Regions from separate parts of the Homo sapiens genome. Here region 1 is linked to region 2. Evidence: fine-mapped expression QTL. Tissue or cell type: subcutaneous fat. Region 2 holds a variant in brackets; the other region holds the start of a gene. All regions are shown on one strand. Distances are from middle to middle.

Region 1 (4,388 bases), 100 kb after region 2:
GTTGTTGCATGTGGCAGTATTTCCTTTTTTTAAAGGCTGAATAATATTCCATCATATACCACATTTTTTTTAGGGGGGCAGGGATGGGGATAAGGTTTCACTCTGTCATCCAGGCTAGAGTGCAGCAGCATGATCACAGTTCACTGTAGCCTCTGACTCCCAGGCTCAAGCAGTCCTCCAACCACAGCCTCTGGAGTAGCTGGGACTACAGATGCATACCACTATGCTAATTCTTTTCTTATATAGAGATGGAATCTCCCTATGTTGACCAGGCTGGTCTTGAACTCGTGGGCTCAAGCAGTCCTCCTGTCTTGGCCTCCCAAAGGGCTGAGATTACATGCATGAGCCACCATGCCCAGCCTATTATATATCACATTTTAAAAAATCCATGTATCGGTTGGTTGTTTCCACATCTTGGGAATAATGCTTCAATGTGTGTTATCTCTTCATTGGGGTGGCAGTTACATGACTATGTGTTTGTCAAATATTGCAGTCTGAAAGGGGTAAATTTTACTATATGTAAATTATACCTTTATTTAAACAAGAGAACAACAAAGAAATTACTCCATAGATTATTTGGTGTTCACAAGGTATGAACCATATGTTTTCTAATGCAGAGGTCTGGCTGCCACAGCCCCTGTCTTGATCAGTTTCAGCTCCCAATAAAGTGGGACAATGAGATATTGGGTGCCTCCTGATATGATGCAATTCAAAGTACAGAGCAGTGGCCAGGCGTAGTGGCTTATCCCTGTAATCCCAGCACTTTGGGAGGCCGAGGCAGGCAGATCACCTGAGGTCAGGAGTTTGAGACCAGCCTGGCCAACATGGTGAAACCCCGTCTCTACTAAAAATACAAAAATCAGCTGGGAGTGGTGGCATATGCCTGTAGTCTCAGCTACTCAGGAGGCTGAGGCAAGAGAATCACTTGAACCTGGGAGGCAGAGGTTGCAGTGAGCCAAGATCGTGCCACTGCACTCCAGTCTGGGTGACAGAGCAAGACTCCATCTCAAATAAAACAAAACAAAACAAAAAACAACGAAGTACAGAGCAGCACCTAGGAAGTATCCCTGAATATTTATATAATCAAGCCTTTAGATCTAATTCCCAGCATGCAGGATGAACCACAGATAGAGGACCAATCTCTGTGACAATATCAGTGACACCCTGAGGATACATTCAGACAAATTGAGAATGTGATGCAGCATCTATCTCAAACAACAACTGGCTGAGACTCTTCAGAAAGGTATCATGAAGATAAAAGAAGGGGATGAAGTGGGTGGGAGAGGGAAGGTGGTTTCATCTAGATTTAAAATTATTAAAAAGATATAATCCAGCCAGGCGCGGTGGCTCACGCCTGTAATCCCAACACTTTGGGACCCCGAGGTCGGGGGATGGCTTGAGCCCAGGAGTTTGAGGCTGGCCCAGGCAACATAGTGAGACCACATCCTTACAAAACATGAATTAGCCAGGCGTGGTGGTGTGTGCCTGTAGTCCCAGCTACTTGGGAGGCTGAGGCTGAGGATCACTTGAGCCCGGGAGGTCGGAGGCTGCAATGACCCATGATTGTAGCCTGGGGGACAGAGTGAGACCCTGTCTATATGTGTATATATATATATATTTGGGACAATTGGGGAAATCTGGATGTGGACTAGCTATTAGATGATATTAAGAAGTTACTGTTGGCTGGGCATGGTGGCTCACTTCTGTAATCCCAGCACTTTGGGAGGCCGAGGCGGGCAGATTACTTGAGGTCAGGAGTTCAAGACCAGCCTGGCCAACAAGGCGAAACCTCATCTCTACTAAAAATATGAAAATTAGCCAGGCATGTGGCACACGCCTGTAATCCCAGTTACTCGGGAGGCTGAGGCAGGAGAATCACTTGAACCCGGGAAGTGGAGGCTGCAGTGAGCCGAGATTTCACCACCGCACTCCAGCCTGGGTGACACAGTGAGACCCTGTCTCAAAAAAAGAAGTTACTGTTAACTAATTTCTAATAACTTAGATATTATTAGATATTGTCAACTAATATCAAGTTGTTAATTCTATTCATTTATTATGGCAGAAGTATTTTAAAGTAAATTAGACAAATCATGACATTTCATACCCAATACTTTAACATGCATCTCTAAAAACCAATTTCTTACAAAGCCACATAATTTTATTACGCCTAATAAGGAGACGTAGCAGGGTAGTGTGAAGGAGGGGAAATCGTGGCGATGGGTTAGGTATACACTTAGAATGAAGTGCAGACTCCACACGGAGGCCCTCCCGAGGCCCAACCGGACCTGACCTGGGTTTGCTTCTCTGTCTTCACCTGCCAGCACTAACCCGCAGCTATACTCCAGCCACACAGGACTTCTTTGAGTTCTTTCAGTGACCAATCTCTTTCTCGCCTCAGGGCCTTTGTACTGGCGGTTCCTTCCGCCGGACACGTCGGGTTTCCTCGTTTTTGCGGACTGGCGCTTTCTGATTTCAGAGACTCTCCGCAACAGAACCATCTCAAGTGGGTCTACCTCCTCGCCTTTTTTTGTTGTTGTTGTTGCTTGGCTGCGCTTCTGACAGGGCAGGCCGTGATGATGTTTGTTTATGAGTTAGGTCTGACTGTTCGTTGGTGCTTAAGATCCCCACCGGGTCCCTAGGGCCTGTGCGTACCGCGCACCTGTGCACGTCCTGCGCGCAGCTGCAGGCGACTCCGCTCTGGCTCGTCGCTGCTGTTTCCTGCTGGGGGTGCCGACCCTGTCCCACGCTAGCTGGGTGACTTCCCCCAACCGCAGAGACAGCGGCGACCCGGGGCCTCAGACCTGCCCCCGCATCTCGCCGGCGCCAGGCAGTGGGAAGTCAGGTTCTTCCGCCACCTCCCAGCCAGGTAACTGCCCCGAAGCCTGCCCCAAAGCCTGGAACCCCCCAAGCTCGGGGACCCCACCCCGAAGAATCGCGACCGCTTCCCTGAGGGACTACACCTCCCAGCGGCTCCCAGCGCGCTCCCGGGCACCGCCCGTTCTGGCGTTAACCCTTTAGTGGCTGCAGTGGCGACGAGCGGAACGGAGTGCGGGTTCCCGGGGAGGGGGCGTGCAGGATCGGGTTGTGGGGGGTGCGCTGTAGGGCTAAGGAGAAGATGAGCTTTGGGGGGCCCTGAGGAGGAGGGGAGTCAGGATTAACCGAGGACAGGGTCGCAGCGGGGGCATGGGGAGGACGGGCCCGAGAGCGCCGCTCCTCCCCAAAACTAGGATTTGGAGCCTCACGTTCTCCCGCAAAACGAGCCCTGTGGGTGCCAGGCCAGGGGCGGCTCCCAGGTGTGGAGGGGGCAAGGTACGGGCGTCTGCCGTCGCTAAGTGCCCCCTTCCACTTAAGGCACACCTTCGCCTCCGATTCCGAACCGCCCGGGGACAGAGGCAAGTGGCAAAGCAGGGAGGGCGGAGGTGAGGAGTCGATACCCCCCACCCCAGGGACCAGGCGCTGCCGCGGGCCCTTTCCCTCCCCCAGGCCCGGGGCAGGAGCTCGGGGAGCCCTTCCTGGTGCCCGCCGTCCTCCTGCGGAGCCATGGGGAGCGGCTCCAGCGCATGGCGGCAGCCCGCCCGCCTCGTCCTGGCCCCTGCCCTGACCCGGGGGCGGCCGCGGGGATGTCCGGTCCGTGGGGCAGGCCCGGTTCTCGCTGCGGCCAAGCGGCCGATTCGGCCGCTCCCGCCGCTCCCCCGCGCCAGGCCGAGCTTCGCTCTTTCCCTCGGTGGTGAGCGGCCAGATCCAGGCGGGTCCTAAGTGTGGGGGGAGGGGGGCGCAGGGAGGGGCGGCCACGCGATCCTAAGACCCTTTCAGATGGTGGGAGAGCCTGGAGAAAGAGACAGCGTGTGCGGAGGGGGTGCTCCCTCAGATGGGGGGTCAGGAAGTCTCCCTCAAGTGTCTGGGACAGAGGGACAGCAGGGGCCAAGGCGGAGATGAGATCCGTGAGTGAGGGGAGCCGGGAAGAAGTAAGGCTGCAGCCGCGGCCCCGCAAGGATTGGGACTTTCGTCTAAACGCGGTGGAAGCCCATGGAAGGAAGCGGTTAGCAGCAAGGCAGAGTCCTGCTCCCTCTGCAGCCCCAGCTCCCAGCGCCCTGGGCTTTCCAGGCACCTGTCCGGGTAGGGGATTGAGGGCCGTGGCCAGGCCCGCACTTTCCTGCCAGCCGCAGCTGGCCACATGCCCATCTGACCCTCCGAGTTCTCCTCTAAAAATGGGGCTGACAGCCGCTACCTCACAAAGTCCACACCGGGCTCAACCCGCTGCCTTCCTCCCCAACAGGACTCTGCCACCCTCCCTCAGGATGCCTGAGGGCCCCGAGCTGCACCTGGCCAGCCAGTTTGTGAATGAGGCCTGCAGGGCGCTGGTGTTCGGCGGCTGCGTGGAGAAGTCC
Region 2 (4,388 bases):
GTGTGAGCCACCGCACCCGGCCTCAATCCCCAAAATTGAATTTAAAATTTTTGGATTGCTAGTGTATTCAGGTATGTGGAATGGGAAAACAGAATTGTCTCTGGAGGAAGACAACATTATCGTAAGCCTCAAAGCATTACAAACTGATTTTTAAAAAATGTTTGGCACACAACTAAGGTAGCTAGACTCAGTAGGACACAACACAACATGAACCAAGAACTATCAGAAAGAAGCAACGATAGAAACATGCTCGGAGATTCCAGATATTGGAATCAGACACAGGCTACAAAATAACTATACTTAATATGTTCAAGGAAGTAAAATATAAGATGCAAGAGTTTAGAAAACTACAAAAAAAATAGCACCACAGGTATTTAAAAAGTAAATTCTAAATTGAAAAGTACAATAGCATTAACTTGGGGCTCAGTGGCTCATGCCTATAATCCCAATACTTTGGGAGGCCGAGGCAGGGTTACTGCTTGAGGCCCAGGAATTTGAGACCAGCTGGTGGTCTGTGCCTATAGGTCTGGCTACTCAGGAGGGTGAGGCGGGAGAATCACCTAAGCCCAGAAGTTTGAGGTTACATTGAGCTATGATCGCACCACTACACTCCATCCTGGGTGGTAGAAGAAGGCTCTCTCTTAGAAAAAGAAAGAAAGACAAAATACAATAACTAAAATTAATAATTCCATTCATGGTTTCCAGAGCCAATTAGACACAGTTGAGAGAGAATTAATGAACTGGAAGATATTGAAAGTAATGGCTGGCCAGGCGCGGTGGCTCATGCCTGTAATCCCAGCACTTTGGGAGACAGAGGTGGGCAGATCACCTGAGGTCAGGAGTTCAAGACCAGCCTGGCCAACATGGTGAAACCCCATCTCTACTAAAAATACAAAAATTAGCCAGGAGTGGTGGCACAAGCCTGTAATCACAGCTACTCAGGAAGCTGAGGCAGGAGAATTGCTCGAACCCAGGAGGTGGAGGTTGCAGTGAGCTGAGATTGTGCCACCGCACTCCAGCCTGGGCGACAGAGTGAAACTCCATCTCAAAAAAATAAAATAAAATAAAATAAAATAAAATGGCAAAAACTGCAATTACTTTTTCACCAACCTAGTAATTCAGAAGAAAATATTCAGAATGAAACATGAAGGGACAAAAAAAATAAAACACACAGAAGAGAAAGTAAGTGATACAGAGGATACACTAGGGATCCTCTAGAGATATATTTTCATAATTTAAAAATATTTTGTCATTTAAAAAAAAAAATAGTGCTAAGATAACAGGCGTGAGCCATCACACCTGGCCCAAATATCTTTATTTTGCCTTTTTATCTGACAGATATTTTCGCTAAGAATGGAACTTGAGGCTGGCAGTTATTTTCTTTTGGTACGGTGAAGGTGTCATTCCATGGTCTTCTGGTTCCTGAGGTTTCTGTTGAGAAGTTGACTGTCAGCCTAATTATTGCTCCTTTGAAGGCAACCTGAATTTTTTCTCAGATACTTCTGGGGTTGCGGGGGGACAAAAAAGGGATCATACACTCCCAGAGTGCTGGATTACAGGGTCTCACTTTGTCACCCAGGCTGGAGTGTAGTGGTGCGATCTCAGCTCACTGCAGCCTGGATCTCCTGGGCTCAAGCAATGCTTCCACCTTAGCCCTTCAAGTAGCTGGGACTACAGGTGCACACCACCACATATTTGACTAGGCCAAATATACCTTTAATCAGCATCCCAGAAAAAAAGGAAAGAGGGGCCAGGCGCAGTGGCTCACAGAATCCCAGCACTTTGGGAGGCCAAAGCAGGCAGATCGCCTGAGCCCAGGAGTTCAATACTAGCCTGGGCAACATGGTGTAACCCCGACTCTACAAAAAATACGAAAATTAGCCAGGTGTGGTGGTGCACGCC[C/T]GTGGTCCCAGCTACTAGAGAGGCTGATCTGGGAGCATCTCTTGGGCCTGGGAGCTCTAGGCTGCAGTGAGCACTTCAGCCTGGGCAACAGAGCAAGACCCTGTCTCAAAATAAATAAATAAAGGGATAGAAAGAGATAATGAGGCAGAAGCAATATTTTAAAAAAATAATGACAGAGAATACTTTTTAAATTATGAAAAACAATAGTTCACAGATTTAAGAAGCCTCATGAACCCCAAGCAGGACAAATAAAAATAATAGTACACCTAGACACGTTATGGTAAAATTGCAGAAAGCCAAAGGCAAAAACTTTCTTTAATCTTAAAAGTATCCGAGCCAGTCATGTTGGCTCATGCCTGTAATGCCAGCACTTTGAGAGGCTGAGGTGGGTGGTTTGCTTGAGCTCAGGAGTTAAAGGCTGGCCTAGGCAACATGGTGAAACCCTGTCTCTACAAAAAATAGAAAAAATTAGTCAAGTGTGGTGGTGTATGCCTGGAGTCCCAGCTACTTGAAGTGCTGAGGTCGAAGGATTGCTTGAGACCAGGAGGTCTGGGCTGCAGTGAGCTGAGATTGCACCACTGCACTTCAGCCTGGGTGACAAAGTGAGACCCTGTAATCCAGCACTTTGGTAGTGCATGACCCCTTTTTTTGGTCCCCTACCAAAAAAGAGTATCTGAGAAAAAATTCAGATTGCCTTCAAAGGAGCAACAATTAGGCTGTCAGTCAACAGAAACCTCAGGAACCAGAAGACCATGGAATGACACCTTCACTGTACCAAAAGAAAATAACTGCCAGCCTCAAGTTCCATTCTTAGTGAAAATATCTGTCAGATAAGAAGACAAAATAAAGATATTTGGGCTAGGTGTGGTGGCTCATGCCTGTAATCCCAGCACTTTGGGAGGCTGAGGTGGGTGAATCACCTGATGTCAGGAGTTTGAGACCAGCCTGACCAATATGGTGAAACCCTATCTCTACTAAAAATACAAAAATTAGCCAGCCATGGTGGCATGTGGCTGTAGTCCCAGCTACTCGGGAGGCTGAGGCAGGAGAATCACTTGAACCTGGGAGGTGGAGGTTGCAGTGAGCTGAGATCATGCCACTGTACTCCAGCCTGGGTGACAGAGCGAGACTCCATCTCAAAAATAATAATAAAAATAAAATAAAAATTTTTTAAAAATTTTAAAAAGTAGCCCTAGAGAGTAGACTTTTAGGACAGGATCCTGGAACTCACTAATCAGGTGGCAACAGGATCCATTGTTGGTGGTAAGTGGGGTAGTGATGTGCTGGTGGGCTATAGCAATACCATCACTAGGAAACTCACCTACTGTGGATTGGGATATGGTACAGGTGGAAGGGCAGGCATTGCTGATGCAGTAGCGCTAGAACAAAGTTCTCCAAATCTGGTTCCTGGATCATCAGCAGCAGCACGGCTGCATGCTTGAGACCTGGCGCTGGAGACCGGCCTGGGCAACATAGGTAGACCCTGTCCACAAAATATTTAAAATTAGCTAGGTGTGGTGGCACATGCCTGTGGTTCCAGCTACTCAGGAGGCTGAGGTGGGAGGATTGCTTGAGCCCAGGAGGTTGAGGCTGCAGCAAGCCATGATCACACCACTCCACTCCAGCCGGGGTAACAGAGCAAGACCTCATGTCAAAAAAAAAAAAAACAAACAAACAAAAAAAAAAGAAGACAAAGAAAGGGCTGGGCACAGTGGCTCACACTTGTAACCCAACACTTCAGGAGGCCAGGGTGGGTGGACCTCTTGAGTTCAGGAGTTTGAGACCAGACTGGGCAACATGGCAAAACCCCATCTTTACCAAAAATACAAAAAATTAGCCAGGCATGGTGTTGCGCACCTGTGGTCCCAGCTATTCAAGAGGCTGAGGTGGGAAGGATTGCTTGAGCCTGGGAGGTGGAGGTTGCAGTCAGTTGAGAACATGCCACTGCACTCCAGCCTGGGTGACAGAGTGAGATCCCATCTCAAAATAAAGAAAAGAAAAGAAATGAAACAAAACGAAATGAAACAAAATGAAAAGAAAAGGGATCCTGATATCTGATATGGAGAAACTTAAGTGGATACATCTGAGAACTTTGAACCTCCAGTTTCCACTAAATGCTCTGGTCTAAAGGAAGTAGCCCCCTTTCCTTGCTAAGAGAAGGGCAGCTGCCCCTTGCCTGGAGACTAGGCAAAGAGCCTCCAACAAGGCCTTACAGCAGGATGAGGTGTGTCGTCATTGCTGCCCCACATTGACACCAGGCTATGGTCATTTCTCATCATGGCCCAAGGTCACAGGCACAATCTGCTCTGGGAGAATGATTTTTTTTTTTTTTTTTTTGCCAAAAATGCAGGAGCTGCCAAGTGCCTACTGGCAGAATCTAGGAGAGGAGGTGAAGAAGTGGACATAAGGGTGTTGGACCAGGGGGAGACTAAAGGCTGTATACATGAGAATATACTAACCTGGGGGCACTCTCAAGATTTAATGGC

What was found. PIP is the estimated chance that this variant, and not a neighbour inherited with it, causes the effect.
Region 1: NEIL1 starts here. The variant in region 2 is the best candidate, but not a certain one, in a credible set for the expression of NEIL1 in subcutaneous fat (GTEx, PIP 0.73).

Annotation. Positions count from the first base shown.
Region 1 is chr15:75,344,608-75,348,995 of GRCh38, forward strand. NEIL1 (nei like DNA glycosylase 1) reads left to right here and starts at 2,432. Exons shown (of 10, transcript NM_024608.4): 1 at 2,432-2,866; 2 at 4,277-4,388. The coding sequence starts at 4,299. RefSeq lists an enhancer at 2,184-2,233 and a silencer at 3,454-3,643.
Region 2 is chr15:75,241,781-75,246,168 of GRCh38, forward strand. No RefSeq gene overlaps it. Among named protein-coding and RNA genes, the nearest start is that of GOLGA6C, 14 kb to the right of the region's middle. The variant C/T (reference allele first, on the strand shown) is at 1,903.